Linked DNA regions of Homo sapiens: region 2 is linked to region 1. The links come from fine-mapping of genetic effects on gene expression. A gene starts in region 1. The other region holds a variant in brackets. All regions are shown on one strand. Distances are from middle to middle.

Region 1 (8,317 bases):
GCCAACATGGCAAAACCCCATCTCTACTAAAGATACAAAAATTGGCCGGGTGTGGTGGCACACACCTGTAATCCCAGCTACTCAGGAGGCTGGGGCAGGAGAATTGCTTGAACCTAGGAGGCCAAGGTTGCAGTGAACCGAGATCGTGCCACTGCACTCCAGCTTGGGTGGCAGAGTGAGACTTCATCTCAAAAAAAAAAAAAAAAATTAAAGTGGGGTCATGAGGGTGGGCCCTAAGCCAACATGATTTGTGTCCTTATAAGAGGAGGAGATCAGGACCCAGACGCACATCGAGGGACCACCATGTGCAGACACAGAGAGAAAGCAGCATCTGCAAGCCATGGACAGAGGCCTCAGAAGAAACCAGCCCACTGACACCTTGGTCTCCAGCATCCAGCCTCCAGAACTGTGAGAAAATACATTTCTATTGTCTAAGTCGCCCAGTCTGTGGTTCTTTGCTACAGCTTCTCCAGCAAATAAGGCAGGTGACGACGCCACAGCCTCCTGGTGCACCTCAGCCTTTGCCATGGTACAGTGACCCCTATGGGCAGTCCGGGCCCATGGGCCTGTCACAGTCACGCACTTGTCAAGCGCATAGGTCTAGGGTGAGCAGGGCTAAGCTCCAGTCCTGGCTCTGCCACTTCAAAATTGTGTGGCTGTGGTCAAAGCCCACCACTCTAGGCCTTGGCTTTCTAATGGTAAAAGAAGTAAAAGTGCCTGCCTCGTGCTGCTGTCTGAGGCCTAAGTGAGCCGATGTATGTAAGTTACTGGGCCTATGCCATGTGCACGCCCGCAGCAGTTGCTATAACTGAGCAAGGCTCTGGGATGTGGTGACCCAGTACGCAGTACAGAGAAGGAAGAGAACTGTCTGGAAGACAGAATGGGTGGTAACTTGAAGTGGATGCTCTGGACCTGGGTGGGCCAAGGGGCTGGATGGACCAGAGCTGTCCACACTCTCCCGGGACCTCTGGCAGGGCCTGGGCCCATGGCCCGCCCCGGGACAGCCAGTTGTCCTGGAGCAGGCTCTCACTTCCGGCCAAGTGCCGGCCGTGTCAGGACGTGGGGGTGAGGGCCGTCGTCTAGGTGCCCTTGTGCTGGGCCCGCCCAGCCAGTTTCCGAAGCTCGTCCCAGAAGAGCATGCTGAGGATGGTGTGGGGGCCCAGGCGCAGGTAGGCGGGGCCCAGGCCCTTGTAGAGTGCCAGGGGGCCCTCCTGCCGCCAGATCTTCACCATGCAGTCGGTGAGGCCCCCATAGAGCTGGCCCTGGGGAAAGACATGGGGTGAGTGTTACTACAGGGGCCTTGAGGCCCTGGCTGGCACCACATCTTGGCACACGGGTCAATTTCACCCCCACACACCCTATGGACAGCACCTTTGTATTGGACACACCTGTGAGGCTGCGGCGCCATGGGAAGGCTGTGGGGTCAGGCCTGAATTCCAGTTCTGGCTCCTCCCCTTACCAGCTGGGGGAACTCATGCAAGTCAGTTGATCTGTCTGAGCCTCAGCTTCCTCATCAGGAAGATGAATGTGATTATAAGGATGGAATAAAATCCAGATGTGAAAGTGCTTAGCCTGTGCCTGGGACCCGGGGGCTCAGCAAACAAGCCCAGTTAATGTGTTTGCATACCTGGCCTGTGTCTGCGTGTCTCTGGCTGTGCATGTGTGAGTGTGAGTGTGTGAGAGTGTGTGTGTGTGTGTGTGTGTTGGGGGGGTGCTCCCAGCTCCCCACGGTCTCCCCTAGACCCGCCCCTGCTCACCCTGCCAGCTGTGTCCACCGGCTGATTGTATAGCCGCGTGCTGACCACATCGAAGGGAGTCATGACGACAACCACGGCTATGCTGCTGATCATGCCCCCAGCCAGGGCCACCAGCCAGCTGTCCTCAGGGAGCCACTGTGGGGATGGCACAGGTGCTGATCCCTGCAACAGCTCTCTACCCACCCACGTCGTGCCCTCCCGGCCTCCTACCACACAGGGGCTAAAAGGGCTACAGAAAGGGGAGCAGATGAGGCCCCTCCAGCCATCCCCCAGCCCTGCCACCCTGAGCTCCTTCTCAGCTTTGGGGTTCACTGCTGACCCCACACTCCTGCTGGTACCAAGGGCCGGAGTCACGACTCTGAGGGCAGAGGCAGGGCCCCATCTGTTGCCACCCCCTGGTCTTCCCCGTGTGGAAGGAGGCAGGTGGCCCCCCTCAGTCCGGTGTGTCTCTGTGGATAGGCACAGGTGTCCCCAGCTCCTCACCTGTTGCTTCTGTACCCAGGCCTTGGCAGAGGCGAAGGTGGCCAGCTGGGCAGCTGAGCCCACCATGACTCGGGGCACAGCCCCACCAACGCCCTGCCACAGCCCCAAGAGCCCTTGCTGCCGCCAGATGGTCTCCAAGGCACCCAGGACAGTCTGTGGGGAGAGGGCACGGGGTCACTGGCCACCCCTGCCTAGGCTGGGAGCATGCCCAATCCATGCCCCCAGGGAGCTCTGAGAGTGGCAGGCCTCACCTGGTGATTGTGCTGGTGTCCCACGGCCACTGCGGCCACTGTCTGAGCTTGCAGCTGCGTTTTGATCTATGGGAGCAGAGAGGACACGGGTGTGGGGATGGAGCCTGGGAGAGCCAGGGTGAGCTGTGTGTGTTGAGGGCGCCCTGCCCCCGTGCCCCTGAAACTCACAGCTCCATGGTCCCGAGCCTGAAGCTTAGGGGTCAAGTGAAATAGGGTTGAGGTGCAGCTCTGGGGTTGGCCTGGGTTTTGCGTCTCAGTGTGACTTGGAGCAAGTTACTTAACCTTTTCTGGGCCTCAATTCTGTCACGGTTGGAAAGCTGTTCTGAGGATTAAGTGAGACAATGATCCTCCAGCACCAGCCAAGGGCAAGGCGAGCCTTTGCTCAAGGGGAGCTTTTTTTTTCTTTCTTTCCTTTTTTTTTTTTTGAGGCAGAGTCTTGCTGTGTTGCCCAGGCTGAAGTACAGTGCCATGATCTTGGCTCACTGCAAGCTCTGCCAACTGGGCTCAAGTGATTCTCCTGCCTCAGCCTCCCCGGTAGCTGGGATTACAGGCATGCATCACCACGCCCAGCTAATTTTTGTACTTTTTAGCAGAGACAGGGTTTCACCATGTTGACCATGCTGGTCTCAAACTCCTGACCTCAGGTGATCTGCCCGCCTCGGCCTCCCAAAGTGCTGGGATTACAGGCGTGAGCCACTGCACCCAGCCAAGGGTAGCTTTCTTCAAAACATTTTTTAATTTTTTATTTGTTTTGGGTGGCCCTGAGGCCCCCCTGCAGAGTGCACACGAGGCGGAGGCCCTCAAGGGTAGCTTTTATTCTTATCGTACATGAGGCCATGCGGGAAGAGAAGTAACCAAGCCAGGATTTGAGCCAGCACATCTGACACCCTCTGCCCCCTCCCCTGGCTCAGGACCAGTGGGGCAGGGACCGCAGGGGAGCATGGATCAGAGCAAGGCCCTGGGCCAAGGGGCAGATTCCAGGCTTGGGCTAGGATGTTCCAGGGAGCAGCCCCACCCCGGCTGCCCCACCCCACCCAGGTCCACTGAGCCCTGCCTTTGGAGGCTGCAGGGCCCCTGTGGGAGCTGGGTCATGGGATGGTGGAGGGTGGACGATGGAGACAAGCCACTCACCAGGTAAGCAGGGCTCCCCACGAAGGCTCCCAGTGCCCCCGCCACGGCTCCCGCAACCACGGTGCCACCTGGTTGCTGCGTGAGGCCAGCCTGGCACGCCAGGCTGTAGCAGTAGAAACGAACGCCATTCATGAGGCCTTGGTACAGAAGGCCGGCAGCCAGCCCCTTCTGCAGGCCCCACAGCCCGTCTGCTCGGGCCACAGCAGCGACAGAGGCTATGAAGCCATGGTAGGGCCGTGGGTAGGTGCCCCGGGCCTGCAGCTCCCCCTGCAGCTGCAGCCGCGTCTTCACCACCTCCAGGGGGTTGGTGAAGACACAGGCCAGGCAGCAGGCAGAAGCACCCAGCACCAGGTCCACTGCTGGGGGCACCGTCTCCATGGCCTCCGGGCCAGTGGCCTTCTGTGCCCGGGTCAGGGGCACGGCACAGGCCCTGTGGTGGTGGCGTTTAGGCTGTCTGTAACCTCGCAGGGCTACGGGGCTGGGGTTTGCAGGGGACCGAGGCCATGTCTAGAGGGTAAGGGTCCTGGTCTGACAGGCCTGTGGCTGCCTGGTGTCCCTGGTCTATCTCAGCAGTCCACCTGCTCTGCTCAGCTGTTCCAGCGGTCTGCCGGAGCCTGGGACGCGCCTCCGCCAGCTGCGACCAATCCCAGCTGCCTCTGTGCCCACACCTGCCAGCCGAGGGCGGGCCTGGACCCTGGGATCTGGGGGAAAGGTCACTTGGGACTGGAGGGAGAGCGTGGATAGGGAGAAGGTGCCAACCAGCCCAGGCACCTCCTCCTGGCCTCCCTCTGGCCCTGGGCAAAGGGCTGGCACCCCTGCCTTGCCTCTGGCTTAGCCTGTCCAGCTTTGGCAGAGCCCTAGGCAGGGGGCAAGTGACTGGGAGGTCCCTGGCATGGGGTACACGGCCAACTCCGCCCCTGCCCCACCCTGCCCCTGATATGCCCCTGGTGACTGACTTCCCCTTTCCAGGACTCAAGTCTTCAGTCTGGCTCCCACCGTCTATAGGCCCATGCTCAGCAGGGTCAGAAGTAGAGAAGGGCTCTGGAGCCCTGGGGAGCTGATTGGAATCCCAGGTGTGGCTCTCATGTGTGACCCCTGGGCAAGTCACTTCCTCTCAGAGCTTCAGTTTCTCTCATTTGTAAAATGGAGATACTGACATCCACTCCAGAAGGTTCTGTGGAGGACTGGCGATGAGAAGAGTGTGCCTAGGTCAGTGCTGCACCCGATAAAGGCACCCGCATCGCCTGCTCGCCCCCACCCCCACTGCCTCTGGCTCCTATGCCCCCCTCGCTGCTCCCAGGACTTCAGGGCACCTGGGTGAGTAGGACTTGAGGAGTGACCTTGGCTGGTAAGGACTTGCTGCCAGGCCTGCCCTGGGATGCCCTTTGTGCCCGCTGAGAAGAGAACGCCACCTGGGCCAGCTGTCAGGTGTGTCTGCTCAGGCTGGGGCCGGTACCAACATGCCCACCTTGGCCTCTGCCCCCAGACAGCTCTCTCCTGCCAGGCCACCCTCAGTCACCCAAGGCCCAGTCCAAACTAGAGGCAGAACCACCCAAGTTGGAGTCCCACACCCACCTCCCAGGGCCCACCCCTTCCCTCCCAGGCCCTTGAGGCAGCAATGCTGAGTGGCTTGAGGGCCTCAGGCTCCCGGCCTGGCAGGGTTGTCACCCTCTGGCCAGCCCTGGAGGGGACGGCGCAGCAAGAGGCAGCGAGGACAGCTTGGATTCTCCTGGGTTTGGGCACTCACCCCCGGGGCTGTGGAGGCAGGAGCGTCCTGCCCCGGGGTGGGCTGCAGATGGTGGGCGGCGGTGCAGACGTGCCCTGGGGCTTGAGCTGGTGGCTGCTCCTCCCCTGGCTGCTGCAGCAAACAGGAACAGGACGGAGGGCAAAGGTCGGGCCGAGAAACTCCCAGGGCCTGAGGGTCTGCAGACGGTGAGTCCGCCCGGCAGCGGTGGCTGATCTGGTTCTGCATGTCCCGTGTGTCCCTTGTGTCAGGCACAGGGCAGATGATGGAGGAAGGTTTGCAGAAAAGGGCCCAAGGGATTTGGAGAGCTCCCTTCCCCTACCCTGCTCAAAAAGGGCCAGTGACAAGCCTTGGCAATATAACATGTCTATTTTATTTTAAAAAACAAAACCCAAACCACCTGACCCCTTCCCCAGGAGGCTCTTGACGAAACTCTAGGGAAGGGCCTGGCTCCAGCCAAGCAGGGGACAGTCAGAAGATGTCAACATGGATGCCAGGCTGGTGGGCTCCGCCCTTCTCCAAGCCCCCCATCCACCCCCTTTGCTCCTCGGTGCTACAGGCACTGCCGGGTTGAGGGGACAGGCAGGGCAGGACTGTGGGCATGCAGAGCCTCCTGGCAGCCAGGGAGGGCTGCCCGCCCCCCTGCATCTGGCGAGGCAGGCAGCTGTGTGCGCAGTGATGGAGCTAGGAGGAGGAAACATGCGCAGACACCCCGTGTTCCCGCTTCCCCACGTGGCCAGGAGAGTGTTCAAACACGAACAAGGATGGCTGGGCACTCAGGGCCCCAGCCCCCAACCCAGGAGAGGAAGAGGGGGGTCCCGCCCTCCTGGTTCTTTTGTTCGTCCTTAGATGGATGGTGTTCTCGGTGCCACTCGGCAGAAATTCTGCAGACTGAGGCGGAGGCCCGGGAGGAGGGCGTGCATCCGCAGAGCCCACAGGGCTCGGACCCTCTGCCCCCAGCGACCTCCATTCGCTACCTGTCGGGCAGGATGCCCAGGGGTGCCGGGCACCTGATCTGGATCCCTGGAGTGGAGGGACCCTGTCTTAAGCCACACTCGGTGGTTCTGCCGCCCAGGGCAGGGGTGGACTGTAGGCTCCCGACAGCATGACAACAGCCGTGACAGTGTGCCTGCCGGCTGGCGTGCCTTCCTTTCCTGCCCACCAGGGACGCCAACCAGCTCTGCCTCAGCACCAGGGGTCTCGGGAGGCTCGGCCGCGGCAGAGACTGTCGCTCCGCTGCCAGGCGCTGTGGATGAGGCTCAAGGCATCCTCGAATTTCTTCTTGTTGGAGGCTTCCTGGATCGCCGTGTGGGGGAGGTCCACCTGTGTTGGGGCGTGCAGAGAACAGATGAGGGCCACTGAGGGCCACAGGAGTCTTCAGGGCTTGTGGGCACCAGGCCTGCCTCTGCCTTGGCCACGGAGCCCCTGTCAGGCCCTCCCCATCTCTCCCTGGGAACATCTTCCACGCTGCTAGTTTCTCCCGCTCTTCCAGGGGCTTGAGCTGAGGATGGGGTGGTGCCCCCCGAGCTCCCTCTTTCCTGGGAAGGCCCCAGCTCTCAGGATGGCCCAGCGAGGCAGGCGCTGCACTCTGTTTGGCTCTGCAGGGAGGTGTCTGTCCTGAGCTGTTCTCTGCCTCTAACTAGTCCAGGCTTCCACGGGGCTAGAGCGTAGCATGTGCTCAAAACCCGCTTGTGCAGGGCTCTCATGAGCACGCTCCCACACTGGCACTCAGCCTGGAGGGCAAGGAAGAGGGTACTGCCAATATTGTGTCCCCCCATCTGAGCACAGCTGGAGGTCCACCACAATTCGTGCTGTTTGATTGGAACTGAGGTCAGGAATTAAGCTTCTTGGGTTCTGTTTTCAGCTTTGGCCTCAGACTCACTGGGAGTCAGGGTTTTGTCCTTTTGATTCTAAGTTTTTGTGCCTGTCAGGTGTGTCTGCTCAGTCTGGGGCTGGCACCAACATGCCCACCTTGGCCTCTGCCCCCAGACAGCTCTCTCCTGCCAGGCCACCCTCAATCACCCAAGGCCCAGTCCAAACCAGAGGCAGAACCACCGGGGCTGGAGTCCCACACCCACCTCCCAGGGCCCACCCCTTCCCTCCCAGGCCCTTGAGGCAGCAATGCTGAGTGGCTTGAGGGCCTCGGGCTCCCAGCCTGGCAGGCTTGTGCGCAGCAAGAGACGGCAAGGACAGTGAGGACTCTTCTGGGTTTGTTTTAAGAGCAGCAGGCACTCACCCCCGGGGCTGAGGCAGGAGCGCCCTGGTACATGGCTGTGCCCAGGACCCTGGAGGCAGGGCCAAGTCCTGGGAGCAGCAGGGGTTCCTCTCCCCGGGGAGTGGCTCCCACTCCACAGGGTCCCTGGCTAATGGGTTTCCTGGGCAGCTGGGTACCTGATAGATGGTTTTCCACCCAGAGTTCAGTGCAGACAGCAATCGGTCCAGTTCAGAAGTGCAGCTCAGGTAGATGACCCAGGGCGGGAGGAGCTGCTGGCTGTCCTGGGAGAACTCCTAGGGAGAGCCAGGCCCCCGGGTGAGCAGCCAGAGCTTTCCTTCTGCAGGCCTTGCAGCCCCGCCCCCACTCAAAGCTCACCAAGACGCAGTACTCCTTGCCCGGCTCGGTGGAGACGGCGCTGATGTCGCCCAGCTTGGCTGTGCCCAAAGAGCGGAAGAAGCTGGTCTGGCAATCCTCATGGCACGTAAAGAGGCGGTCATCCGTGAGGACCAGGCAGCAGGGTATGCAGGGGCTGGGAGCTACGCCCTGGGGGATGACCTGGCAGCGGGGCAGGGGAGAGGCAGGCTGGGGCCTCCAGGGCTGGTCTGCACCAGAAGTCCACACTCCAGGGGACCAGCCAGCCCTTCTGCTCTCCCTCCAGGGATCTCCCTCCAGGGATCGGGAGCAGAGGCGGGGATGGGGGTGATGCCTCTGAGCTCCAGGGTCCATTCCTGGGCTG
Region 2 (8,317 bases), 55 kb after region 1:
TAGCACGGACCCTTTTGCGGATATGCCAACTTCATCACAAATACATGCCCTTGACAGGTATGTACTCATTTCTACCTGGAATTGGGACAGTGATGTTTACTGCGGCAAGCCCCACAGCAAGGTGTCTGTGGTGTCACCCGGTTCCCCGGATCAGCATCCAAAATGCAATCCCCATGTACTTCAGGTTCTTATAATCAAAGCCCCTAGTGAACCTCTTCAAAGCTACCATCCTTGAGCAAGATTATTCAGGGGACTTCCCAGGAGCAGAGGCAATGTCGCCGGGACCCAGGCCATGGGAAAGTGAAGTTGCTTATCACTGGCCTCCACCCTGACTGCCAGACCCTGGGCGACGCCAGCCTGGCGGGGGGACCCGGGGATGCAGCGGATTCCACAGGAGGCTGCATGGGGTTCCTTCAGGAGCTCCCGGGGGCGCCGCTGCCCCAGTGGGGGACCGGAGGGTCGCTGACCCCTCTCCGGGAGGGCAGGGCCCCGGGCCAGGTTTGGGGAAGCTCCGAGGATGCTGACCTCAACTTTGTTCTTTAAAAATAGCTCCGAGGCCGCGGCGCTCACGTGAGCGGCGCCGCTTCCCCTCTACCGGCCCGGGGCTCCCGGCCGCTCGTCGCCCCCCGGGTCGCGGAGGGGAAGGGCGGGGGGCCCCGGCCCGGGAGAGCGCCGCCGGAGGGCGTGGGGGGCGCGGCGAGGAAGGGGCCCCGGCCGGGAGGGAGGCCGCGCTCACCTTCTTCACCGACAGCGAGATGTTCTCCAGGATCCGGTCCTTCACCTCCCCCGGCTCCATGGCGCTGCCACCGTCGCCGCCACCGCCACCGCCACCGCCGCCGCCGCCCCGCCGCCGCTTCCCGCGCCGGGGGCCGGGGGCCGCCGCCAACCGCTGCCGCCGGCCGTACGGGGGCTCCGTCGTGCCGGCCGCGGGGCCCGGCGCCCGCCGCCCGGCCCTCGCCTCGCCTGGGCCCTCGCTCCACCGCGGCCCGGAGGCTCCGGAGCGCGGCCGGCGGGGAAGGAGGCCGCGGGCTGTGCGCCGCGGCGGCGGCGGCGGCAGGAACTGATGTCAGGCGGGGCGGCGCCAGGGCCCGCCTGCGCCTGGGGACTCCGGGGACCCGGAGACCCGCACAGACCCTTGGCCGCGGCCCTCCCCAGAGACCCCGAGACCCGCCCCCAGCCCTCCTCAAGTCACAGACTCTCCCCGGCACCCCAGAGACACCCTCAGACCCCAGGGACGCCAGAGACCTCGACCCCGCCTGCCGGGGACCTCGGGGCTCCTCAGAGACCCTCCCCAAGCCCTCCTCAGCCCACAGATTCCTTCAGGGACCCCAGAGACACCCTCAGACCCCAGGGACTCCGGACACCCCGACCCCGCCTGCCAGAGACCCCCACAGACCCTGGGACCCCGGCCCTCCTCGGAGACCCTCCCCCAGGCCTCGTCAGCCCACAGATTCCCTCAGGGACCCCAGAGACACCCTCAGACCCCAGGAACTCCGGAGACCCCGACCCCGCCTGCCCGGGACACCGGCCCTCCTCAGAGACCCTGGAGACCCTCCCCCTCAGCCCTCAGGCCATAGACTCCCCCCTGGGACCTCAGAGACACCCTCAGACTCCAGGGACTCCGGAGACCCCAACCCCACCTGCTGGGGACCCCCACAGACCCTGGGCCCCCAGCCCTCCTCAGAGACCCCCAAAGACCCCGAGGCACTGGCCCTCCCCAGAGACCCTGAGACCCTCCCCACAGCCCTCCTCAGCCCACAGGATCCCCCCACAAAACCCCAGAGACTCCCACAGGCCCCAAGGACTCTGGAGACTCCGACCCCACAGGCCAGAGACCCCCACAGACCCTGAGACCCCGGCCCTCCTCAGAGACTCGAGACACCCACAGACCCTGGGCCCCCTCCCGCCGGCCCTCTTTAGTCCACAGACCCCTCCTTGGAGACCCCAGTGCACCCCACTAACTCTGGCCAGGGACCCCAAGACCCTCTTAGCCTGCAAGCCCCACTTATCTTCCTCCCCTTCCTTAGCCCAGCCACCCCCTCAATGTGCAGACCCAGGCCCCCTGGCTTTCGCAGCCTGGAGGACCCAGCACCCCCACCGGGTCAGCCTAGACTCCAGTCCCCAGCCCTAGACCCTCCCTGGGCCCCCTGGCCCTCCACAGCCTCCCCTCCTCAGTGCCTCACCCTCAAGGCCCAGTCCTACATTTGAGGTCCCTGGTGTTCCTCCCCACCCCCAAAACACACCCTCCTCACCTTCAGCCCCAATGCCCCATTCCCACTCCTTATCCTTATCCCTCTTCTTCAGCCCCACGTATCCCAAGGGCCTCAACTCCCTCAGCCCCTGAAACCCACCGTAACAACTCTCTTCCCACACACCCTCCTCAAATCCACCATCTCATAAAGCCCCTGCACTTAGAGGTGTCAGTCTCCTACCTGGCTCTCTTCCCTCCTTAAGTTCCCAAATAAATATATCCTGACACATAGATTAGTCCCTCCTTTTTATTCTCAGACACCCCAGTTCTCAACTCTGGTTCCCTGGTCTTCCCTCTTCTCTGCTCAGGCCACCCCATCCCTGAAGTCCCCTTAGCATCTGAAATACTGATTCATTGCTTATCTCAGAGGGACCCCACAAGCCTCCAAAGGTCGCTCCCCAGCCCCTTAGTTTCCCAAGGAGAGACCCAAAATAGTGGTACTTTGTTTTTTGTTTTTTTTGTTTTGTTTTGTTTTGTTTGTTTTTGAGACAGAGCCTTGCTCTGTTCCCCAGGCTGGAATGCGGTGGTGCGATCTCTGCTCACTGCAACTTCCGCTTCCCAGCTTTAAGCGATTCTCCTGCCTCAGCCTCCCGAGTAGCTGGGACTACAAGTGCATGTGACACCATGCCCAGCTAATTTTTTTTTTTTTTTTTGAGGCGGAGTCTCGCTCTGTCACCCAGGCCGGAGTGCGGTGGCACAATTTCAGCTCACTGCAACTTCCTCCTCCCAGGTTCAAGTGATTCTCCTGTCTCAGCCTCCCCAGTAGCTGGGATTACGGGCGCCTGCCACCACGCCCAGCTAATTTTTTTGTATTTTTAGTAGAGACGGGGTTTCGCCATGTTGGCCAGGCTGGTCTTGAACTCCTGACCTCAGGTGATCTGCCCGCCTTGGCCTTAAATTATTTTTTAAAGACAGGGTCTCACTCTGTCACCCAGGCTGGAGTGCAGTGGTGGGTGTGATCATAGCTCACTGTAGCTTGAACTCCCTGGGGGATCCTCCCACGTCAGCCTCCCCAGTAGCTGAGAGTACAGAATAAAATACGCCCAGCGAATTTTATTTTTTGTAGAGACAGGGCCTCGCTCTGTTACCCAGGCTGGTCTTGAACTCCTGAGCTCAGGCCATCCTCTTACCTCAGCCTCCCAAAGGGCTGGGATTACGGGCATGAGCCATCATGTCCAGCCCAGGGCGTTTTCTTATTTGTACTGAGTTCAGGAAAGCAAGAGATAACAGCCTCTTTGGAGTTGTTATCTACCTCTCATATTCAGAGAGCAGAATAAGAACAGATGAGGGTTGAGACTCCAGTCACTGGATAGGTAGAGAAAAGGTTGAGGACAGAGGACACATTACTTTGAATGAGGAAATAAATAGCCAGGTATCTATGAGTAGAAATAGCCTCCTACTTACCAAAGGTGTTTGTGGAGTCAGAATTGCGCACTTCCTTCCCACTCCATCCTGGCTAGGGTGCATACAGGCCCCAACCTGCTGGATGCAGCTCTGGTTCATGAAAATGCAGTCCCCCAAAACTGACCCAACAAGCTTTGGGATTCTTCTCTGCTGTTGAATAGCAGGCCATCTTCTGCTGAGCACTGCGTTCTGCTGGGCACCTCCTCCCTAGGAATGGCTGATCATGGCTTGGGCACATGGTACACTCAGTGGGTATTTTTATTCCTTGGCTGTATGCCTGGGGCGTCCACTTGGTCTGTGACATAAGAAGGTGGTGGCATTTCTGCCATATTGTTTTTATCTGCATGTATTGGGAGATGGTCACATTCAGCATTTTACAACATTCAGAGGAATGTAAGGTCTCACTGTCTACCAAATTCCTAAGGTTTGCATAGGTATGTGAGCTGGTACAACAGACATTGTTATCTAACAACACTTCTTGCAGGAAAGAGGGAGAGGCCAAATGTGCATTGATGTGCAGCTAATTGCTCCTTGTCCAGAGTTCAAATATGGAATCCGTTCTGCGTGTCAAACACAGGGCGAGCCGGGCATGGTGGTGCATGTCTATAGCCTCAGCTGCTTTGGAGGCTGAAGAGGGAGGATCTCTTGAGCTCATGTGGCTGCACTCCAGCCTGGGTGACAGAGCAAGACTTCACCTCTTAAAAAACCCCAAAAAGCAAACCAAAAAAAAAAGGGTGACTCTGAAAAACACAAGATACTTATTTGTTATTGGGAGTCACTTAAGCTGGAAATTGAAGCTCATT[C/T]ATTTATTGCACAAGACTTTTCTGATCTCATGAGAAGTGCATGGGACTCTGAGTCAAAAGGCAACAAGAATTAAAAGCCTCAACTGACTCATGCTAGGGCCTCAGGCAAGTCACTTTGCCTTAATTTCCAAATCAGTGACCCAGGAAAAATGATTCTATTCTTATTTTTTGTTGTTGTTGTTTTTTGAGATGGAGTTTTACTCTGTCGCCCAGGCTGGAGTGCAGTGGCTCCATCTTGGCTCACTGCAACCTCCGCCCCCCCCGGGTTCAAGTGAGTCTCCTGCCTCAGTTTCCCAAGTAGCTGGGATTACAGATTCCTGCCACTGCACCTGGCTAATTTTTGTATTTTTAGTAGAGTTGGGGTTTCACCATCTTGGCCAGGCTGGTCTCGAGCTCTTGACCTCATGATCCACCTGCCTCAGCCTCCTAAAGTGCTGGGATTACAGGTGTGAGTCACCGCGCCCAGCCTGTTGTTTTCTGAGACAGAGTCTCGCTCTGTCACCCAGGCTGGAGCGCAGTGGCGTGTTCTCAGCTGACTGCAGCCTCTGCCTACTGTCATAGCATTTAGAATACAGTCCATACTCTTTTCTCTGGCTTCCAAGGCTGATCTGATCCAGCCTCCCTCCCTGACTCATCTCCTAACTCTCCGCTGGTGTGTGCCAGCCCCACCAACCTTAGTTTCTCAAGCATGCTGGTCTGTTCGCATCCGAGGGCCTCTAGCTATTCACCCAAATCTGCTCTCTCTGGCTGCGTGTGATGGCTCACGCCTGTAATCCCAGCACTTTGGGAGCCCAAGGTGGGACGATCACTTGAGCCCAGGAGTTCAAGACCAGCCTGGGCAACAAAGTGAGACCCCCCATCTCTACAAAAAATCCAAAAATTAGCCAGGCATGGTGATGTGTTCCTGTGATCCCAGCTACATGGGAGGTTGAGGCTGCAGTGAGCCATGTTTGCACCACTGCACTCCAACCTAGGCAACAGAGCAAGACCCTGTCTCAAAACAAAAGCCAAACAACAAAAAAACAAAATCTTCTCTCTCTTTACACAGTAATAGGGTTGTAGCCAGGCAGAGTGCTGCACTACATTTCCCAGCCTCCTTTGTGACACGCACAGCTATATGATCAAATCCTCTCAAATAGAACATGAACAGAGAAATGTGATCCATTCCTAGGCTGGGATTCTATGCAAATTTCCTCTTCCATGCTGTTTCTTCTTCTACCAGTGCAATGAAGCCAAGGGGATGTCAGACATATAAAATATAGACACCCTAGTTCCCTGAATCACTGCATGGAAGAGAGCTGTCCATCAACCTAGAACAGCTGCCTTGAGCTGTAGCATAGAAAGGGCTATGCTACAGTTTCTTTTTTTCTGATTAATTTTCTGATTAATTTCTTTTTTCTGATTAATTTTTAACTTAATTAAAATGCAGATAAAGTTTTTAGCTGGCCATGGAAGTTAAAGGACAAAAGACACTGGGTGCAGTGGCTCACGCTTGTAATCCCAGCACTTTGGGATGCCGAGGTGGGTGGATTGCCTGAGGTCAGGAGTTCAAGACCCCAGCCTGGGTGACAAAAAATAAAAAAGAGAGAACTAAGGACAGATGTAAGGTTGCTTCTCTTTACACCTGATGATACAGTTTGGATATTTGTTTCAAATCTCATGTCAAAATGTAATCCTTAGGCCAGGCACGGTGGCTCATTCCTATAATCCCAGCACTTTGGGAGGCCAAGGCAAGCAGATCACTTGAGGTCAGGAGTTCGAGACCAGCCTGGCCAACATGGTGAAACCCCATCTTTACTAACAATACAAAAATTAGCCAGGTGTGGTGCACGTGCTTTAATCCCAGCTACACCGGAGGCTGAGGCAGGAGAACCACTTGAACCCAGGAGGCGGAGGTTGCAGTGAGCTGAGATCGCGCCACTGCATTCCAGCCTGGGTGCAGAGCAAGACCTGTCTCAAAAAAAAGAAAATAAATAAATAAATAAAAGGAATCCTCAGTGTTGGAGGTGGGGCCTGATGGGAGGTGACTGGATCATGGGGGTGGAGTTCTCATGAATGGTTGAGCACCATCCTCTTGGTGCTGTCCTCAAAACAGTGAGTGAATTCTTGCAAGATGTAGTCATGTAAAAGTATGTGGCACCTCCCCACCACTCTCTCTCACTTCCTCTTGCTTTTGTCATGTGATAAGCCTGCTCCTGCTTCACCTTCTGCCATGAGTAAAAGCTCCCTGAGGCCTCCCCAGAAGCTGAGCAATGTTGGCCCATGCTTGTGCAGCCTGCAGAATCACGAGCCAATTAAACCTCTTTTCATTATAAATTACACAGTCTCACTGAGCACGGTGGCTCACACCTGTAATCCTAGCACTTTGGGAGGCCAAGGCGGGTGGATCACTTGAGGTCAGGCATTCGAGACCAGCATGGCCAACATGGTAAAACCCTGTATCTACTAAAAATACAAAAATTAGACAGGCGTGGTGGTGCATGCCTGTAGTCCCAGCTACTTGGGAGGCTGAGGCAGGAGACTCGCTTGAACCCAGGAGGTGGAGGTTTCAGTGAGCCAAGATCACACCACTGCACTCCAGCCTGGGTGACAGAGCAAGACTCCATCTCAACAAAATAAAAATAAATTACCCAGTCTCAGGTATTTCTTTATAGCAATGAAAGAATGGCCTAATACACCTGATTTGAGCCTTTCCATTCTAGGAAGATAATGGGTGAGGTACTAGAGGTACTATGATCAAAGTCTGTACAACTATTAGCAGGGAGATACTGTTTGCCAATGTCCCAAATTAGTCTTATATGTGGGTATAATAAAAAGTACTACTTCACTGGGGCCAGGTGCAGTGGCTCACACTTATAATCCCAGTACTTTGGGAGGCTGAGGCAGGAACATTGCTTGAGGTCAGGAGTTCAAGTCCACCCTGGGCAACATAGTAAGATCCTGTCTCTAAGAAATTTTTAAAAATTAGCTGGGTGTGCCGGTATGCACCTCTAGCCCTAGCTACTTAGGAGGCTGCTGTGAGAGGGTGGCTTGAGCCGAGGAGTTTCAAGATTACAGTGAGCTATGATTGTGCCACTGTACTCCAGCACTCCAACCTGGGTGATAGAGTGAGATGCTGTCTAAAAAAAAAAAAAAAAAAACAAAAAAACCTACCTCACATAGAAGTCCGCAAGCATACTAACCCCCCTGAATGTAATCTGCCTTAAATCTACATTAAACTCAGCATCAGCAGTCACTGGGGCTAGAATCTCTCAACTGGCCTCACTGACCTGTCTCGGTTTCAGGCACACTTCTGCCACTAGCTATGTCACCCCACTTATGGCAGCCTCTCAGGGCCTTTGAAGTCAGGAAACTGAGGCAGCAAAATGGTGTTCCTGGATTTGTTCTTTCAAAACATATCTGAGTGGTGTAAGAGTTGAAGAAAGAAGAAAGAAACATGAAAAGTGGCTTAACAGTCAAACATGGGCTTATTTTGGAGTATAAACCTGAGAGGGGCTTCTGGCCAACTTAGGTCAGGAGCCTTTTCTCTTACAGACTATGAGTATTTAAGAGTTCAGGGTGGGAGAGCTTATCACAGGCTCGGAATGTTTCTGTGTCTCTTTGTCTTGCTTACCTGGGAGGGAGAGTTGTGTGTCTGTTCCCATACATCTTCCTGCAGCTGCAGGCATCCCCCCACCCCCTGAGTCTGCTTTTAGCTTCCTTATCTTAGTGCACCTAGAGGGAAAGGAATGTGCTTATTAGGGCCCACTGTTTTACTGGGGCTCATTGTATGAGTGTGAAGTTGGGTGGTTACCCGAGACTTTCTCCCTCCTTCTGTGCCTGAGCTGTCTTATCTGTGCTTACTGTCTGCTCTTTCTGG

Evidence for each region. PIP is the estimated chance that this variant, and not a neighbour inherited with it, causes the effect.
Region 2: its variant is fine-mapped to the expression of SLC25A34 in monocytes after LPS (Quach 2016, PIP 0.95).

The regions. Positions count from the first base shown.
Region 1 is chr1:15,732,169-15,740,485 of GRCh38, reverse strand. SLC25A34 (solute carrier family 25 member 34) reads right to left here and starts at 4,228. Exons shown (of 5, transcript NM_207348.3): 1 at 3,623-4,228; 2 at 2,492-2,557; 3 at 2,241-2,393; 4 at 1,758-1,892; 5 at 1-1,262. The coding sequence starts at 4,000. The coding sequence ends at 1,080. It overlaps PLEKHM2 (pleckstrin homology and RUN domain containing M2), which reads right to left. Exons shown (of 20, transcript NM_015164.4): 18 at 7,957-8,136; 19 at 7,758-7,874; 20 at 5,717-6,689. The coding sequence ends at 6,552. SLC25A34-AS1 (SLC25A34 and TMEM82 antisense RNA 1) reads left to right here. Exons shown (of 2, transcript NR_149050.1): 2 at 264-435. RefSeq lists enhancers at 4,362-5,128, 5,129-5,894.
Region 2 is chr1:15,677,038-15,685,354 of GRCh38, reverse strand. PLEKHM2 (pleckstrin homology and RUN domain containing M2) reads right to left here and starts at 1,035. Exons shown (of 20, transcript NM_015164.4): 1 at 737-1,035. The coding sequence starts at 796. RefSeq lists enhancers at 52-111, 4,971-5,471 and silencers at 342-411, 932-1,011, 1,102-1,181, 6,174-6,721. The variant C/T (reference allele first, on the strand shown) is at 4,459.